Regions from separate parts of the Homo sapiens genome. Here region 2 is linked to region 1. The links come from fine-mapping of genetic effects on gene expression. A gene starts in region 1. The other region holds a variant in brackets. All regions are shown on one strand. Distances are between the middles of the regions.

Region 1 (4,385 bases):
AAATAAAAACTCAGCAAATTTAGCTCTTCATCTAAGTCTTTTCTATTCAATGCTAAGTACACCCCTTATCATTGTTACATTAAGAGCAATTGGTTTCCTAGAATATTAGAACTAGAAGGTCAGCTGTCAAGCAGCCATTTGTTCACTCCACAAAGATTTCCTGAGCACCTTTAGCGGGGCAGGCACTGTGCCAGGTACAGAGAATAAACTAGACACCCTCTCTGCTGTTGAAGGGGCCTGAGATCAGCAGCTTAATAAGACAAATGAGGATCCTGAGGTCCTAGGGGTTAAGAGTGTGTATTATAGTTCTATTATTCAAATTATGAATGTTATGCATCTCTCGTAGTTTTACTTCTGAGAAAACCAAAGTCATAGTATTACACAGACTACAGACAGGCTAGGCGCAGCGGCTCACGCCTGTAATCCCGGCGCTTTGGGAGGCCGAGGCAGGTGGATCAACAGGTCAGGAATTCGAGACCAGCCTGGCCAACATGGCAAAATCCTGTCTCTACTAAAAATACAATTAGCTGGGTGTGGTGGCGAGCCCCTATAATCCCAGCTACTCGGGAGGCTGAGATAGGAGAATCGCTTGAACCCAGGGGGTGGAGGTTGCAATGAGCTGAGATCATACCACCACACTGCAGCCTGGGCGACAGAGCGAGACTCCGTCTCAAGAAAAAAAAAAAAAATGACTAGAGATGATTCAACAAATCCCTGAATCTCCCTTGTCTACAATCCCACTGGGCAGAACTGTTTTTGTTTTTTGTTTTTTTTCTGTAGAGACAGGGTCTCACTATGTTGCCCAGGATGGAGTGCAATGTCACAATCTTGGCTCACCGCAACCTCCACCTCCGGGGCTCAAGCCACCATCCCATCTCAGCCTTCAGAGTAGCTGGGACTACAGGCGCATGCCACTACACCCAGCTAATTTTTTGGTATTTTTTGTAGGGATGGGGTTTTGCCATGTTGCCCAGGCTGGTCTTGAACTCCTGGGCTCAAGTGATACGCCCGCCTCGTCCTCCCAAAGTGCTGGGATTCCAGGCGTGAGCCACCGCGCCCGGCCCTACACTAGGTTTTAACAGTAAGTGTGCATTTCCCACTTTGATGACGGTGATGGCGAAAGCAAAGAAGTCTGGATTCCAAGACCTCTAGTAACTGCCAGGTTGCGGGGGAAAATGTCTGGTTTCCCAGACAGAAGGCTTAGAGCAGCACCGCCCGCTTGGTCTCATTCTAAGTCCCCGTCCACCCCTTGAACAGCGCTCACAATCCCACACCCAGGGCCCCGGAACCCACGCCTCTGCCAGTAAAGACGCCATTATCTTAACAAAAGGTAACTGGAGCCTCTCCCCAAAGAGACTGGTTCCCGTCCCATTCTTCTCCAATCCGGGTGGATTTGGCAAAAGCCCAAGTGACCCTCCCTAGCAATTCCGCAAAGCCCCATCTCCCGCCCCAGACTCCAGAGTCTCCCGACCACTCTCATTTCGGAGAGGCCTAGGGGCACGGACCCGGAAGCGTGACAGAGGCCGCGGGGTAAGAGGGGGGCAAGTGCAGGCGCAATCCCTCCTCAGCCTCGTTGTCCCGCCCCCTTCCCAAGGCCCCAGCCAACCTGTTCTAGGCGTCGCCGGTCCTCGGATTTCTTCTTTCCGCCTCGCGTGGTCACGTGACGGGGGAGGGGCGGGATACAAAAAGTGCTTTATTTTCCCACTCCCCGGACGCCCAGCAGGGCAGTTTCTTGACCTTCGGAGCCCCTTTCCCGAGGATCCGCTCGGGAGCCTCCCCTGGCCAGGAGCAGGGGATTAGTCTGCCCCGCGACCGGCCCCAGCCACGACGCGGACATCGCCCCCTCTGTCTGGGCCGCTGTCACTCACGCGCCAAAGGGCCACGGAGAAAGAAGGGGCGGGCCGGGGCGGGCCGGGCGAGCGGAGGCGGGGACTTGCGCCGTCCTGAGGCTGCCTCCTAGGGTCCGGCCGGCGCTGGAGCTGCGGATTTAGATTGTCACTGCCACCTCGGTCGGTGCTTACTTCGCTGCCAGCTGGTCGTCGCCATGAACCCGGACCTGCGCAGGGAGCGGGATTCCGCCAGCTTCAACCCGGAGCTGCTTACACACATCCTGGACGGCAGCCCCGAGAAAACCCGGCGCCGCCGAGAGATCGGTGAGGGCGGCGGGCGAGACCTCCCTCCTTTCCCGAGAAAAGCTGGAGACTCCCTCGATGCGGAGTCAGGGGCGCTGTGGGGCCTAGGCCCTCTGGCCCAGCGTTAGGGGAGCCGGGACCCCCACTTCGAGGAACAGCCTGTGTCCCTGGTGGGGGGATATCGCCATTCCCCAGGTGTGTCCGCGACTCTGAAGCCTATTGTGATTCAGGGAGGGTGGAACGGAGGCCCGAGTGTCTGTCTGCCTTTTAATGCCCTTTAACCCCCTTTCAGAGAACATGATCCTGAACGACCCAGACTTCCAGCATGAGGACTTGAACTTCCTCACTCGCAGCCAGCGTTATGAGGTGGCTGTCAGGAAAAGTGCCATCATGGTGAAGAAGATGAGGGAGTTTGGCATCGCTGACCCTGATGAAATTATGTGGTTTAAAAAGTAGGTATGCCTTAGAACAGAGCAAGTGTTGTTAAGCCTAAACTTTACAGCTGCGGTCTATGGTGGCCTTTCATCACCGTGCTTGGTGTTTGAAGATGCAAACTGGCATATTTTCATGCAACTTTATAAAGTTATATGTGTGGCCGGGCGCGGTGGCTCACGCCTGTAATCCCAGCACTTTGGGAGGCCGAGGCGGGCGGATCACCAAGTCAGGAGATCGAGACCATTCTGGCTAACACGGTGAAACCCCATCTCTACTGAAAATACAAAAATTAGCCGGGCGTGGTGGCGGGCGCCTGTAGTTCCAGCTACTCGGGAGGCTGAGGCAGGAGAATAGCGTGAACTAGGGAGGCGGAGCTTGCAGTGAGCCGAGATCGCGCCACTGCACTCCAGCCTGGGCAAGAGTGCGAGACTCCATCTCAAAAAATAAATAAATAAATAAATAAATAAAGTTATATGTGTGAAAAATAATGTGATCACTTTTGTATCCAAGCCTTTTCGTGGGATGACGTGTTTGTAGAATGCTGATAATAAATGGAAATGCAGGAGTTTTTGTTCTCAAGAGTACAGTTTCAAGGATGTTGTAAAAGCATTGTTCTGCCCAAGCAACTCAAATTTGACTGATTTAAATGCAGAATCATTTTGCTCTTTGTAAGGAGGACTGCTAAAATTCTGAATCTGGGAGCATTTTTTTTTTTAGTTGCACGACCATTTAAATATTTTGGAGCAATAGCAGATTATATTATATGGTAGTGTGGACCTGGATGAAGAATGATCTGTGACGCCTCTGAATGAATAGAAAGTCTAAGAACCCAGTAGTTCTGAATCCATGACAGTGCTTGAATGGTTGTCTTGTGCATATGAGAGAGACGTCATAAAAACCTGCCTTGGTTCTAGTGTGGAAGAGAGTATATCCTTTTTTCAGACCATGTGTTTTGTTGTGTTTTTTGTTTTTGTTTTTGTTTTTTGAGACGGAGTCTCGCTCTGTCGCCCAGGCTGCAGTGCAGTGGCACGATCTCGGCTCACTCCAGCCTCCACCTCCCGGATTCAAGCGATTCTCCTGCTTCAGCCTCCTGAGTAGCTGGGATTACAGGCGCCCGCCACCACACCCGGCTAATTTTTGTATTTTTAGTAGAGATGGGGTTTCGCCATGTTGCCAGGCTGGTCTCAAACTCCTCACCTCGTGATCCACCCTGCTCCACAAGGAACGGTAAAAATAAATAAAAATAAGGACTTCGGGCCGGGCACAGTGGCTCATGCCTGTAATCTCAGCACTTTGGGAAGCCAAGGCAGGTGGATCACTTGAGGCCAGGAGCTCGAGACCAGCCTGGCCAAAATGGTGAAACTCTCTCTACTAAAAATACAAAAATTAGCCGGGCCTGGTGGTGCGCTTCTGGGGTCCCAGCTATTCAGGAGGCTGAGGCAGGAGAATCCCTTGAACCTGGGAGGCAAAGGCTGCACTGAGCCGAGATCACGCCACTGCACTCCAGACTGGGCAACAAAGAGAGACTCTGTCTCAAAAAAAAAAAAAAAAAAAAAAAAGACTTTTTTGCCTTAACCTAAACAAACACTATTACATGATCCTAGTACAAGATTATTTTGGCCTATAGCATTTTTTTCTCATTTATTCCTGGGCATTTTCTCTTTTAGGTTTCTCCATTTTAAAGGAACTCCAGTATTTTCATCGGTAAAGACTAAATCGTATGAGTGGTGTATAGACTAGAACCAAGCTAAATAGAACATGTTGCACGTTCTGCCTTTATGGTAATAATGGTCACTGCCTCTAGTGCCTTTGGTATCG
Region 2 (4,385 bases), 30 kb after region 1:
GGACTGAAGGCTTTCACCTCCTGGACTGCAAACACTGGCATTGAAGCATGTCGGATGGCTTGTGGTGGGCATGGCTATTCTCATTGCAGTGGTCTTCCAAATATTTATGTCAATTTCACCCCAAGCTGTACCTTTGAGGGAGAAAACACTGTCATGATGCTCCAGACGGCTAGGTGAGAGTCAAATCCTCGATTCCTCCCATCTGTTCATAAGAATGTTCTAGTCCTTTTCCTAGGTTCTTGTTCCCATGGTTTTTCTTCACCGTATATATATATTTGTTCCTGAAAGGTATACTTTTGCCTTCCATCCTGACTCACGGTTTTTATTTCGTGGTGAGGCTAGAGAGTATGAAGCACCTGTTACATAGCTTGCAGTTGTATCAAGGATAGAGTTACTGGGCTGGGCACAGTGGCTCATGACTGTAATCCCAGCACTTTGGGAAGCTGAGGTGGGCAGATCATGAGGTAAGGAGTTCAAGACCAGCTTGATCAACATGGTGAAACCGTGTCTCTACTAAAAAAATACAAAAAAATTAGCCGGGCATGATGGCACATTGCCTGTAATCCCGGCCTACTTGGGAGGCTGAGGCAGAAGAATCGCTTGAACCTGGGAAGCGGAGGTTGCAGTGAGCCAAGATTGCGCTATTGCACTCCATCCTGGGCAACAAGAGCGAAAACTCCATCAAAAAAAAAAAGGCCAGGTGTGGTGGCTTACTCCTGTAATCCCAGCACTTTGGGACGCCAAGCCGGGTAGATCACTTGAGGTCAGGAGTTAAGAGACCAGCCTGGCCAACATGGTAAAACCCTGTCTCTACTAAAAAAACAAAATATTAAAAATTAGCCAGGAATGGTGGCAGGTGCCTGTAGTCCCAGCTACTTGGGAGGCTGAGGCAGGAGAATCATTCATTTGAACCCAAGAGGAGGAGGTTGCAGTGAGCTGAGATCTGGCCATTGCACTCCATCCAGCCTAGGCAACAAGAATGAAACTCCATCTCAAAAGAAACAAAAGAAAGTAGAGTTACTAAAAGCATGTTTACTGGTGACTTTTAGGTTCCTGATGAAAAGTTATGATCAGGTGCACTCAGGAAAGTTGGTGTGTGGCATGGTGTCCTATTTGAACGACCTGCCCAGTCAGCGCATCCAGCCACAGCAGGTAGCAGTCTGGCCAACCATGGTGGATATCAACAGCCCCGAAAGCCTAACCGAAGCATATAAACTCCGTGCAGCCAGGTGAGCTCTCCCTCAAGAGCTAGAATACGCAGCAGTGGGGCTGGGGCCCTGACAGATGGCAAGAAGGCATGAGTACTGTTGATCATTTCCTCAGACCTCCAATCTATGTCTTAACAGATTAGTAGAAATTGCTGCAAAAAACCTTCAAAAAGAAGTGATTCACAGAAAAAGCAAGGAGGTAGCTTGGAACCTAACTTCTGTTGACCTTGTTCGAGCAAGTGAGGTCAGTGGTAGTTCTCTCTTTTTCCCCTTCCCTGCCCTCAGCATCCCGCATTTTCTGGTACAGAAACCCTAGTCACTGTATATTGAATCTTTTTCCAAGGTTCTCAAACTCTGGTGTTTTCTTTTTAATCTTAGGCACATTGCCACTATGTGGTAGTTAAGCTCTTTTCAGAAAAACTCCTCAAAATTCAAGATAAAGCCATTCAAGCTGTCTTAAGGAGTTTATGTCTGCTGTATTCTCTGTATGGAATCAGTCAGAACGCGGGGGATTTCCTTCAGGTCAGTATTTTCTAAGTATAAGTCTTTTTTGTTGTTGTTTTAAGAAAAATAATTGTTGGCTGGGCACGGTGGCTCATGCCTGTAATCCCAGCACTTTGGGAGCCCAAGGCGGGTACGGTGATCACTTGAGGTCAGGAGTTCAAGACCAGCCTGGCCTGGTGAAACCCTGTCTCTACTAAAAATACAAAAATTAGCCAGGTGCAGTGGCACATGCCTGTAATCCCAGCTACTAGGGAGGCTGAGGCACGAGAATCATTTGAACCCTGGAGGCAGAGGTTGCAGTGAGCCAAGATGAAACCACTGCATTCCAGCCTGGGTGACAGAGCAATACTCTGTCTCAAAAAAAAAAAAAAAGAAAAAGAAAAATAGCCAGGCACAGTGGCTCATGCCTGTAATCCCAACACTTTGGCCAAGGCGGGCAGATCACCTGAGGTCGGGAGTTCGAGACCAGCCTGACCAACATGGAGAAACCCCATCTCTACTAAAAATACAAAATTAGCCAGGTGTGCTGGCGCATGCCTGTAATTCCAGCTATTTGGGAGGCCAAGGGAGGAGAATTGCTTGAACCTGGGAGGCGGAGATTGCGGTGAGCCAAGATCACACCATTGTACTCCAGCCTGGGCAACAAGAGTGAAACTCAGTCTCAAAAAAAAAAAAAGAAAAAAATAATTGTCATCCGCTTTATAGCTGTATATGCATAT[A/C]ATTATGTCTATCTATATACATATATATGTTTTATTTACTTATTTTGGTCTCTTTTAGGGGAGCATCATGACAGAGCCTCAGATTACACAAGTAAACCAGCGTGTAAAGGAGTTACTCACTCTGATTCGCTCAGATGCTGTTGCTTTGGTTGATGCATTTGATTTTCAGGATGTGACACTTGGCTCTGTGCTTGGCCGCTATGATGGGAATGTGTATGAAAACTTGTTTGAGTGGGCTAAGAACTCCCCACTGAACAAAGCAGAGGTAAAAATCCAGTGTCTCTGCACCTTTTTAAAAGTCTTCACTTAAATATTGAAGCAGGAAAGGCCTCTCGAAGGGGATTTATCTGTGAAAGCTCTGAAAGTACCATGGCCACTTCTGACAGTCACTTTATTTGAGCAACAGGTTCAGAAGGGAACTGGGTTGTTCCCACAGTAACCAGGGTCTTAATCAATTTCAATTTTTGATAACGAATTGAACATTTAAAAATATATACAGGCCGGGTGCGTTGGCTCACACCTGTAATCCCAGCACTGTGGGAGGCCGAGTGGGCAGATCACCTGAGGTCAGGAGTTCGAGACTAGCCTGGCTAAAATGGCGAAACCCAATCTCTACTAAAAATACAAAAAAAGCAGCCAGGCAGTAATGGTGCACGGCTGTAGTCCCAGCTACTCGGGAATTCTCCTGCCTCAGCTTGAACCCAGGAGAACCCAGGAGGCGGAGGTTGCAGTGAGCCACGTTCGTGCCATTGCACTCCAGCCTGGGTGACAAGAGCAAAACTCTGTCTCAAAAAAAAAAAAAAAGTATACACACACACACACACACACAAATAGAATAAAATATACAAAAAGAGAATTCCGTAGTGCTCTTTGGTACACCCTTTGTCTAGCAGCAATGACTATCAACTCGTGGCTAGTTGTGTTTCATCTGAACCTTCATCCCCCTCCTCCTGGGGACTATTTTGAAATAAATCTAAGACATCAGGGCCAGGCTCAGTGATGCACACCTGGGAGGCCGAGGCAGGTGGATCACCTGAGGTCGGGAGTTTGAGACCAGCCTGACCAACATGGAGAAACCTTGTTTCTACTAAAAATACAAAATTAGCCAGGCGTGGTGGCGCATGCCTGTAATCCCAGCTACTTGGGAGGCTGAGACAGGAGAATTGCTTGAGCCTGGGAGGCGGAGGTTGCGGTGAGCCGAGACCATGCCATTGCACTCCAGCCTGGGCAACAAGAGCGAGGCTCCGTTTCAAAAAAAAAAAAAAAACTAAGACATCAGATAATTTTATCCATAAATAATTCAATGCATAGCTCTAAAAGATAAGGACTCTTCAGAAACAACCACAGGCTGGGCACAGTGGCTCACGCCTGTAATCCTAGCACTTTGGGAGGCTGAGGTGGGTGGATCACTTGAATTGAGGAGTTCTAGACCAGCCTGGCCAACATGGTAAACCCCCATCTCTACAAAAAAATACAAATAGCAGCCAGGTGTCATGGCACACACCTGTAGTTCTAGCAACTCGGGAGGCTAAGGTGGGAAGATCGCTGGAGTCTGGGAGGCAGAGGCTGTAGTGAGCCAAGATTGTGCCACTGCACTCCAGCCTGAGCAACAGAGCAGGACTCAGTCTCAAAAAAAAAACAAAAACAAAAACAAAAAACAGTATACTATTTAACATGGCAAACTCTTTATTAGTAGTTCTTCTCTCTCCTTTCCCCACAGGTCCACGAATCTTACAAGCACCTGAAGTCACTGCAGTCCAAGCTCTGAAGTGTCACAAGGACAAGTTTAATCTGCTTCAGAAAGCGCCTGTGTGCAACTCAAATTTTGTGGAATCTTTTTCGAATTCAAATAGCTATAGAGCAAATGATAAATTGACCCCTTTTTATAAATGGAGGGAAAAAATGAACAGATTTCAGAGATTAAATGAAAAAAAGCAGATGTTTTAAGTGCAAT

The links. PIP is the estimated chance that this variant, and not a neighbour inherited with it, causes the effect. A credible set is the group of variants that fine-mapping cannot tell apart.
Region 2: its variant is the best candidate, but not a certain one, in a credible set for the expression of ACOX1 in whole blood (TOPMed, PIP 0.74).

The regions. Positions count from the first base shown.
Region 1 is chr17:75,976,733-75,981,117 of GRCh38, reverse strand. ACOX1 (acyl-CoA oxidase 1) reads left to right here and starts at 1,952. Exons shown (of 14, transcript NM_004035.7): 1 at 1,952-2,153; 2 at 2,425-2,584. The coding sequence starts at 2,045. TEN1 (TEN1 subunit of CST complex) reads right to left here and starts at 1,878. Exons shown (of 4, transcript NM_001113324.3): 1 at 1,607-1,878. It overlaps TEN1-CDK3 (TEN1-CDK3 readthrough (NMD candidate)), which reads right to left and starts at 1,901. Exons shown (of 10, transcript NR_037709.1): 1 at 1,607-1,901. RefSeq lists enhancers at 1,390-1,489, 1,611-2,194, 2,060-2,289, 2,195-2,778 and a silencer at 1,910-1,979.
Region 2 is chr17:75,946,562-75,950,946 of GRCh38, reverse strand. ACOX1 (acyl-CoA oxidase 1) reads left to right here. Exons shown (of 14, transcript NM_004035.7): 9 at 1-173; 10 at 1,050-1,229; 11 at 1,347-1,452; 12 at 1,587-1,730; 13 at 2,490-2,696; 14 at 4,152-4,385. The coding sequence ends at 4,199. Among named protein-coding and RNA genes, the nearest start is that of FBF1, 7.7 kb to the right of the region's middle. The variant A/C (reference allele first, on the strand shown) is at 2,432.